Linked DNA regions of Homo sapiens. The protein of the gene in region 3 purifies or fractionates together with the protein of the main gene of each other region. This does not show direct contact. Each region holds a gene or a part of one and is shown on either strand. Other genes may lie near its edges.

The links.
Region 1: the proteins of CDKL3 (region 3) and AMY1A purify together in Homo sapiens (affinity purification with mass spectrometry, with the first as the bait; one large-scale study listed by BioGRID). This does not show direct contact.
Region 2: the proteins of CDKL3 (region 3) and LSM14A purify together in Homo sapiens (affinity purification with mass spectrometry; one large-scale study listed by BioGRID and IntAct). This does not show direct contact.

What each region holds. Positions count from the first base shown.
Region 1 is NC_000001.11:103,661,891-103,665,197, reverse strand, and holds the end of AMY1A (alpha-amylase 1A precursor), read right to left. Parts: intron 2,542-3,307; coding exon 2,423-2,541; intron 2,313-2,422; coding exon 2,187-2,312; intron 868-2,186; coding exon 678-867; 3' UTR 644-677; downstream 1-643. UniProt on the Homo sapiens protein: Calcium-binding enzyme that initiates starch digestion in the oral cavity.
Region 2 is NC_000019.10:34,178,944-34,182,602, reverse strand, and holds part of LSM14A (protein LSM14 homolog A), read right to left. Parts: intron 1-3,659. UniProt on the Homo sapiens protein: Essential for formation of P-bodies, cytoplasmic structures that provide storage sites for translationally inactive mRNAs and protect them from degradation. Acts as a repressor of mRNA translation. May play a role in mitotic spindle assembly.
Region 3 is NC_000005.10:134,311,576-134,315,234, reverse strand, and holds part of CDKL3 (cyclin-dependent kinase-like 3), read left to right. Parts: intron 1-1,317; exon of another isoform or gene 1,318-1,824; intron 1,825-2,854; coding exon 2,855-2,943; intron 2,944-3,659.

The DNA.
Region 1 (3,307 bases), on a different chromosome or scaffold from region 3:
TGCCTACTTTACAACTTGGTAAGGCCTGGGGACATATGAAATTAACCATGCCCTAACTAGAATGGAAAAAGTCAGACTTTATCTGCATCTAGTACATAATTAAAACAACTTACCAGGTTTACATTAAAGTTAAAAATTGCTAAGATTGACCATAAAAATATGTAAATAAGACAACTAAAAATAAATTTACATGCAAGGTGTGTAGGAACACTTAAATGTGTTTGTGGTAAAAGATTATAAAAAGGCATAAAAATGTAAATGTTGCCTATGGAAAAAGGATTCTTTTGAAACCTATGTAAGGGTAAAATTTGGCTTTCCTTCCCTTGTACAGATTTTTCATGTAATAGAGAAGAATAATGAAATATTTGGTTTGCCTTGTTGGTAGAATGCCAAGGAGAGAAAAGAGTAGACAGGAGACAAACTGTTTGGAAAGCTAAGTCTTACCTCTTAATGAGTAAAGATTGTTGCCTAGTTTTAAAATTTTTGAGTCATCCTTTTGCCAAAATAAATAACTTATGTGTAACCTGGAATTGTATTTCATACTATCAAGTGTCTTAAACCTCTTTTTACTAATTAGAGCTTTTATTTAAAATTAATGATATGTAACTATTACTGTATATGTAAGAAAAGAAACACACTTAGCTATTGCTTTGCGGATTTGCATTTAATTTTAAATTTTACAATTTAGATTCAGCATGAATTGCAATAAATGGATCTTCAGCAGAGTTACTAATAGAAAAATGAGCTTTGCCATCATCAGAAACGTAGATTTTAATGCCTGTGCAGTTGCCATTAATTTTATCTCCAGAAATGACATCACAGTATGTGCCAGCAGGAAGACCAGTTTGCAAAGTTAAAGAAAATGTCCTGTAAAATAAAATTTCAGATTTAACTTCAAAACAATGAAATCAAGAATACAGACTAACACAAATAAACAGCATAACTTTATGTTTTAGAACCCTAAGCAGTGAAGTCTCATTAAGAAGAAAACCCATATGCCTCCCTAGTAGGTGTAAACAGCTTTCTAGGACCAAAAGTAACCTTACAGAAAACCTACCAATTTCCTTTTCAGTAGTGAAAATATAACCGAAAAATCAAAGTTGAAGAATATCACCGAAGATTGGCGGGAGCGGTCACATTTTGATAAAGTGCTACCTTGGTAAAATCAAATTTTTTCTCAACTGAACTTAATGCCAATTACTTTAAAAATTTAAAGGGTATTATTTTTTTAACCTTCTTTTATTCTACATGAGGTCAAAAAGAATTTAGGGTGTACATAAAAACAGTCTAGCATTTGTATGAGGAAGTGATAGTTTGAAATATAAAGCTTTTTCACAAAAGATTTTTTTGGTATTTTCATCCACAAAAGAAGGAAACTAAGGAAATAGACACGCATTTTTTTGGCAGGAAAGAGATCAACTTGACTTATATATTTTTGTATTTATTTATTTTTCATAAGTGAAGTATAATTTATACTAGAGTGAGCTAAGTATGAGTGTCAGTTGGCCTTGGACAGAGACAATTCAACTGTTTGCAAGGAGGTCTTCTCAGCTACAGTTTCGGGAATCATTTATACTACAGCCAAAGGATACAAAAATCACAGATGAAAGGCCAATAATGAGAAGTTTCAGAACTAAAACTCAAGTCTCCTGAAGCAAATCATTAACCACAAGATACATATTATTTATCCATATGCTTTAAAAATGTTATTTGTCACAAGGAGACAGAGAAGTGAAGAAAGTATACCAAAAAACTAGGTAGAGCTGTCATTGAGAAAAAGAGAAATAAAGATATTTTAGTACTGAGGCAGCATTTTTCCATGATTAAAAGAGCAGGACTATAAGAAACGTTCTTTTAATGATTTCACAATCCTTCTATTAATTACTTTGTGTATTTTGTGGCATGTGTAGGTAAGCATATGAATGTGCATTCTATATATGCATAAGATATTGCAAGGGTGCACAGAAAGGATTCTGCTTACAACAGAAAGCACTTATGAAAACAGGAGAACGAAGGAGTAACAGCCATCATCCTTTTGCTTCTACCCAATTTTGATCTCTATTGTCTTCTCGCTCCACTGACTACATGATTTTTCAGATATGATAAATGTCAATGAACAGAAAAAAAAAAGAATAAACCAAGAACATACTGGTACAAAATATTATTTTTAATTGATATTTACTTACCAGTCATCATTGTTGAAAACAATGAATCCTCTGTTTCCTCTCCCAAAAGCCACTTGGTTGCTCCCATTATCATACCAGTTTGTAAAAGGCTGGCCATCCACTACATTGCGGAAATTAACCATGTTCCTAAAAACACAATACCATATAAAACGTTGATATTCTTAAACTTCAACTGTTTTAAATAAAGTGCTACGGAAATTTACTATTAGAGGACATGTCTAAATACATATTCTCACCTTATTTGGCGCCATCGATGTTCACAGACCCAGTCATTGCCACAAGTAGTGTCTGGATTAATAGTAACTTCTTTAGTTACTCCATTATCATTTGGTGGCCCAACCCAATCATTAACATCCTTAATTACAGGAGGAAAAGCCAAATTTTAGCATATATATATTTATCTCTTCCTTCTCCTTTAAACCAAACCCAACCTATCCTGTTACTTGTGTCTCTGCATTCAGTGACTTTATCTAGAATCCAATGCCTTCATTGATTTTTATAGCCCTTTACTGGGTCTTCATCATCTCTCTATCCTCTGGTTCTCTTTTGCCATATTTCAAACAAAGGTAGCAAATTGTTATCCTCTCCTTTTCATTCCAAGGCACTGCAAAGACTTCTTTGCTCTGTCACCCAGGCTGGAGTACAGTGGCATGATCGTAGCTCACTGCAGCCTTGATCTCCGAGGCTCAAGCGAACCTCCCATCTCAGCCTCCCAAGTAGCTAAGACTGTTGGTGTGCACCACCGCACCCAGCTAATTTTTTTTTTTTTTTAATTTTCAGTAGAGGCAAGGTCTTGCTAGCTTGCCCAGATAGGTCTTGAACTCCTCAGGTCAGCTGACCTTCTCAGCTGGCCGCACACAGTGCTGGGATTATAGGTGTGAGCCACTGCACCTGGCCTGCAAGGGCTTCTTAACATCACTGTAAGCCATGCAATGGCATTGAAATGGGAAGGGCATTAGTACTAGAAACACCAGGATTAAAACATAGGCTCTATTACTAGTAGCTGAGAAAATTTAATCAATATAAATAATTTCTCTGTGTCTCAGTTTCCTCATTTGTAAAATGAGAATAATGAGTTCTTTTGCTATAAAAATTAAGTAATATATGTGAAAATGCCTTGA
Region 2 (3,659 bases), on a different chromosome or scaffold from region 3:
GCCTCCCAAAGTGTTAGGATTACAGGCATGAGCCACCGCGCCCGGCCGAGAGTTGACTCTTCAGATTCACAAGGTCCACAGAGAAACACTCAGAGGAAAAATCAAACCAAACCAAAAAACAAACAAACAACAACAAACCAGTGTGATCACATTTGTGAATTCCAGGAATAGAGAATTCTAAATAAAAGCTTCCAGAGAGAAAAGTGACTGAGAGTCAGACTGGCATCAGCAACCCCAGAATATTAGAAGAACAAAAAGCAGTAACTTCAAAGTTCCACAGAAAAAAGACTCTTAATTTGGAAATACATAGCCAACCAACCAGTCAAGCACAAGAAAACATAGGTTCACTAAGAAAATTTGTCACCTACATTTCCCATATATTTTATTTTTTAATTACAAAGATTCACTCAAGTAAAATTGGGAGGAGGAGAAAGAATCAACTGAGAGGTCAATATTGGAAACAAGAAACAGGAATCTGAGTATCTCTGAATAGACTAGTGAGAGATAATGGACCAGGGTAGTAGGGGTGGTCAGAGGTCAAATTCTGCATCTAGTTTGAAAGCAGAGCTGATAGGTTCGGATCACATGAGGTGAGACAGAGAGAGAGGAATTAAGGATGGCTCCAAGGTGTTTTGGTCTTACCAACTAGAATAGAGCTGTCATTTGATTAGATGGGGAAGGCTGATGGAGGAACAGGTTTGGAGCATGCTGAATTGAGATTCTAGCAGACTTCCCTACAAGTAGAGATGTTAAAGAGGCAATGGATATACAAGTCAGGAGTTCAGAGGAGAAATTCAGGCTAGAGATAGGAGTCAGTGATATACAGGTAGTATTTGAAACCAGGAACTAGATGGATGAGATCATCAAAAGAATGCAGATGATTAAATAAATGTTAACAGACAGAGAGAAAAGGGGAGATAACTGAGCCCTGGAGCTCTCCCAACATTTGGCGGCTTACAGGTTCAATCAGCCAAGGAGATTGAGAGGTAACCAGTGAGATATGAGGAAAAAAATGGCATACGATCAAGTTAAGAAAATGCTTCACAGAGAACAGACTAACTGTACCACGTAATGCTGACTGGTGAAGTAGAATGAGACTAAGAACTAACTACTGGATTTGGTAACATGGAAATCTTTGGTAATTTTGATAAGAAAACTTCATATGTAGGAATAAAAACCTTAGTAAACAGGGCTCAAAAATGAATGAACACCAGTGGTGTAGACAACTTCTTCAAGGGGTTTCGCTATAAAGGGAAGGATAGAAATGGGGTAATCATTAGAAAAGAGGAAATTCAGTTCAAGTACAGTGGGGTTTTTTGGTTGTTCTTAAGGTAGAAGAAATAACTGCCTATCTGTAAGCAGACAGAAAGATACGTTAGGGAAGGAAAAACTGAGGAGAGTAGAGAACTGCTGGAGCAATGTTCTTGAATCACCAAGAGGGGACAAATGCTGCACAAGTGGAAGGGTGGTCTTAGACAGAAATAAGAACAGTTTATCCATATTGATCAGAAAAAAACATAGAAGTCTGGGGAACAGATGCAGGTAACTGGGTATGTGAGGGGTAAGTTTATCAAAATTATCTTTCGTTTGCTGTTCTTTTCTCAGTTAACTGCTATAGAAAGCACGGTTAAGGGGCTGAAAGTGAATATGGGGGAGGTGTTGGAGGCTTGAGGAAAATGAATGGAATAGCCATGTAGAAAAGTGAAATGGATTATGGAAGTATAGTGTGACTGCTAGGAAGTGACCATGACTGCGGAGGCTAGCGAACATAAATTTAGAGTGAGGCTGGTCAGCACATCTGTGTTGATATAATCAGGGTTGTGATTTCTTGTATAAGACAGCAAGAGGGGAATGGGGTGGGGGCTGAGGGAATGTGTACTGACTGTCGTGGTTGCTCATGGAGTTGAAGCAGGATAAAGAAGGAAGTAAAGTTATGAGGGGAATGAGAGGACAGTGAAAGGCAGTAAGATGACAGTAGACTACAGTAGGTGTGAATGACTGACTGAGTTGGGCTACTAGAGAGACTGAGCACCTAGACAGAGAGGGAGATCGTGGTGGGAAATAACATGGGACAGCTATTCTCTATTAAGCACCAACATTAAACTAGTTACTTCTTTTATATCACCTCATTTAATTATCAGAATGACTCTGAAAGATGGGCATTATTATCCATCCCTATTGAAAAGATGAAGAAGTTAAAGCTAAGGTTAAATAACTTGTCCAAGACCAAAAAGCTGCTAAGTATTCCAACTGGCATTTTGGGTCGCATTTTCTTCCAGAAAAAAACAAACAAACAAAAAACCCTACAAAACTAGAATAAGGCCCTTGGGAATAAATTATTTTACAGACCAACTCACACTTTGTCCACTAAAAAACTTACTTCAAGCCAGACACTGTGGCTCACACCTGTAATCCCAGCACTTTGGGAGGCCAAGGCAGGCAGATCACTTGAGCCCAGGAGTTAGAGACCGACCTGGGCAGCATGGCAAAACCCTGTATCTACAAAAAACAGAAAATTAGCTGGGTGTGGTGGTGTGTGCCTGTGGTCCCAGCTACTTGGGAGGCTGAGGCAGGAGGATTACCTGAGCCCAGGGAGGTCAAGGCTGTGATCGTGCCACTGCACTCCAGCCTGGGCAACAGAGTGAGACTCTTGTCTCAAAACAACAACAACAAAATTTACTTCAATGGTATCTAGTTTTTAAAACAGCTAATTAATATATTATTTTATAGCATCATGAGAGAAAGACAAATTGTTTCTATAGCAAGCATCTTCTAGCACGGAATAATTAAATTCAAGTTAAACTATCTGTAGTTACTGCTATTATTACTGTGGCACTGAGTTAAATACAAAACTCCTGCTATGTATCATGCACAGATAAGATTTCTTTTTTCTTCCTACTTCCTTCCTTCTACTATTTTTTTTCTTCAGTTTTATGCTGTTTTCTTTACTTCCGACTTAGAAAATCATGGCTTACCTTACTTACCCCTACTAGAAAATGAACAGTTTCTGGCACCTGACTTCAGACTCCCAGAATTACCAAGTATTTCTGCGGACTATGTAACAATAATAAACTGTTTCCAAGGCTCCAAGTACTGGCAACATCACTAAATAGGGCAACAAAAAGAAACTGTGGCTTGAAGTTTCACTAGATCTTTGTCATTTTAGATAGTAATTTTGTGAATTGCTAGATTTAGATCCCCAAGTAATGCAAGAAATCAAATAAAGCACCCCGCAAGTATTTTATCCATCACACAAAGCTCTTCCACTCTCTCCAATAAGGTAATAGTTTATGACTATGTGACTAACATCAAGAAGTAGATAAATTATGCCAATGAGCCAGACTTAGCAGATGATTAAAGAAATCTGTTAACAATTTACTTGTTTTTCTATTCTTCCACCAATCTCTTGATTTTAAGAACAACTTATTTTAAAGGCAAGTGGCTTATATAATCGTTCTTCATAAAGTCTCTTTTCCCAGTGCAGTAGCAACCTGGTTTCCATTTGAATGATTATCCAGGTAAGCTAACTAAATGTAAGAATTTATTTTTTATAAGAATTTCATTCATTTTAGCCTATTTAGGCATCCTACTCACTTATAGACGTAGGTGCAAACACAACTGGAACTATTCCATAAAATATTCATACATGTCACCACTGT
Region 3 (3,659 bases):
TTGCAATATGCTTTTTTTTTTAACAACTAGTATCATCCAATGATTTGGAATGCTACATTTATCATAGACAAAATGCTTATACATGTGTGGGTTTGTTTCTGTTCCATTGATTTTTCTCTTTATTCTAGAAGTAGTACAACTTTGATTTATTATTGTAACTTTAAAATACACTTTGATATCTGATGTAGGGCACATATTTTTCCTAGATATAAATTTTCTAAACAATGTTATTGAGGTATAATTTGTGGGCAGTAAACTATACATACTTAAAATGTACAATTTGAAGAGTTTTGATGCATGTATACACACATGAAACCACCACCACAATCAGGATACCTAACACACACACACACAAACACACACACGATACCTAACATTTCCATCACTCTCCAAAATTTCATTGTGTCCTTTTACAATTCATCTTTTCTTCCATTTCTGTCCCCAGATAACCACTGATTTGCTTTCTATTCCCATAGATTAGTTTGAATTTTCTAGAATCTTATATAAATAGAAGCATACAGTAGGCACTCTTTCATGTCTGGCTTCTTCCACTCAGCATAATGGTTTAGAGATTCATTCATGTTTTTGTATGTATCAGCAATTTGTTCCTTTTTTGCAGAGTAGTAGTTCATTATATGACTATACCACATTTTAAAAAATCCTTTCCCTGTTGATGGACATGTGGGTTATTTCCCACTTTTCGCTATTACAAATAAAGTTGCCATGAGAACATTCATGTTTGTCTTTGTATGGAACACACATTGTATTTTCATTCCTCCTGCAGAAATATCTAAGAACAGAATGGCTGGGTCATGGGTAGGCATATGTTTAATTTTTAAAGAAACTGCCAATCTGTTTCCCAAAGTGTCATGTTTTACATTTTCCAAAGTAGGGCATATATTTAAATTTACTGAATTATATTCACAGAAGGACTGCCTCTAATTGTCTGCCCCTATGATTTGGTCAGACCTTTTAGCATTTTTCTTATAAGTTTTAGTGATAGATTACCATTATATTCTAAAATGAGCACATATTTTTAACTAGTTGCAGGGTTTTTTTAATTTGTTTGTTTCGTTTTGTTTTGTTTTTGAGACGGAGCTTTGCTCTTCTTGCCCAGGCTGGAGTGCAATGGCGTGATCTTGGCTCACCGCAACCTCCTGTCTCCCGGGTTCAAGCAATTCTTCCGCCTTAGCCTCCGAGTGGCTGGGATTACAGGCATGTGCCACCACACCCGGCTAATTTTGTATTATTTTTTTTTTAGTGGGGACGGAGTTTCTCCATGTTGGTCAGGCTGGTCTCTAACTCCCAACCTCAGGTGATCCACCCTCTGTTGCCCCCCAAAGTGCTGGGATTACACGCATGAGCCACCACACCTGGCCAACTAGTTGCAGTCTTAAAGACCTAGGTATTGCCACATCATTAAGTAGGTAACAGACTTAAATAATTTCTCCTTGTGAATCAATGTTTTTTATTTTGGTAAAAAAAAAACCCCACATAACATGGAATCTACCTTCTTACAAAATTATTAAGTGTACAGTATGGCATTTTTAACTATATGCACATTATAGTACAGCAGATCTCTAGATTTTTTTCTGTGAATCAGTTTAAATATGCATTTTGAAATAAACAGAAACATAATATTATATACAATTATCTTGGATTTGCTGGATTTTAATTGTGGCTCCTCTACTTATGAGATCTTAAACAAATTACTTGATCTCTCTGGGCCTCAGTCTCCTCATCTGTATAATGAGGATAATAATAATACTTACTTTGTAGGATTGTTGTTGCGATGGAAGGAAGAAAAAGCTGGAGCGTTGTCTGGTATGTAGTAAGCATCAATAAAAGTTACTAGTCAGGCTTGGTGGCATGTGTCTGTAGTCTGAGCTACTCAAGAGGCTAAGGAAGGAGGATATCTTGAGCCAAGGAGTTCAAGGCTCCAGTGAGCTATAATTGCACCACTGCACTCCAGCCTGGGCGACAGAGTAAGAACCTGTCTCTAAAAAATTTTAAAAGGCCAAGCACAGTGGCTGTCTTCTGTAATTCCAGCACTTTGGGAGACTGAGGCGGGAGAATCGCTTGAACTCAAGAGTTCATCAGCCTTACAACATAACAAGACTCCCATCTCTACAAAAAAGTTAACTATTAATGTTTTACCTCCTTTCACAGGAGGAATGAAAATTATAAAGCAGATGCTTTTTATTGAAAACCTGTTTTCAGTATTTTGATTAAAGAAATGTGTTCCATTTATAATTATTGTTATTTAACTACATATAGATTTATTATGTACAACTTAACATTCAAAACTACCTTCCATATTTTGTTTGTTTGTTTCTATACCAAGAAAGGGAAACAGAAAAGAGCTGATTTAATAATGGGTTATTGAAAGATTTAGGGACTTGAATATTTGCAAAATGGTATTATGATATAGAAAGAGTGCTGGATTAGGCGTCAGACAACATGGGTTAAAACTCGTGTTTGGCAAACTACTAATCATGCTTCTAGATCTGTAAAATGCAAATGATTATCCATGAACTTTCCACCTGTCAGGGCAGAAAAGAGGATCAAAATGAGCTAATTAATTTTTGCTAATTTCAGCAGAAACAGACTGACCTCTGTTTTGGCTAGAATCATGGGACATTTAACCTATAATAATGTTTTGCAAGTGCAAATTCCTTAGGGAAATAAACAGCCAGAACTTACTACCAGAAGTTCCTGAGGTCTAATTCCATCTTTTCAAGAAGGCTTTTTGATCTGGATAATTACTTACTTCTTAATTTGTCAAATAAATTTAATTTTTACCATATGGAGCCCTGTTGAGAGCTCACTTATTAAAATCTTTTTCCTTTCCTAGGCTTGTTTACAAATTGATCCTGCTGACAGGATATCATCTAGTGATCTTTTGCATCATGAGTATTTTACTAGAGATGGATTTATTGAAAAGTAAGCATTTTGAGTGAATGTGGGTTTTTTAAAAGCATTTTGTATTGGGAAATTTTACTAGCAGGAAAATTGCTGTATAGGTTACTTTTATATAACAAATATTCAGTTTAACAAAAATTTATTGAGTTATTGTATCAGGTATTGACTAGGAAGACAGCAGACTTAACAAGTGTCACGAATGAAAAGCCTAATAATAGGATGGGCATAGTGGCTCACACCTGTAATCCCAGCACTTTGCGAAGCTGAGGCAGGCAGATTGCTTGAGCCCTGGAGTTCACGACCGGCCTGGGCAACATAGAGAGACCCCTGTCTCTACAAAAAATACAAAAATTAGCAAGGTGTGGTGGCACACGCTTGTAGTCCCAGCTACTCGGGAGGCTCAGGTGGGAGGATTGCTTAAACCCCAGAGGTGGAGGTTGCAGTGAGCTGAGATTGCACCACTGCACTCCAGCCTGGGTGACAGGTTGAGACCCTATCTCAAAAAAAGAAAAAGAAAGTCTAATAATAAAAAGTAATTGCAACTAACATTCGTTACACAGTTACCATGTCCTAGGCAGTGTGCTCTGCTCTTTACATACTACAGTTTCAGTGTCATCATAGACCAGAGATAACATTAAATAAGCAATCAATACTTCTTAGCTTTATTCCTGTTTGGACCTCTGACTCAGAGAATAGTCTGGTTTTTCCTCTTCTGATGACATTCATTTATCATAATT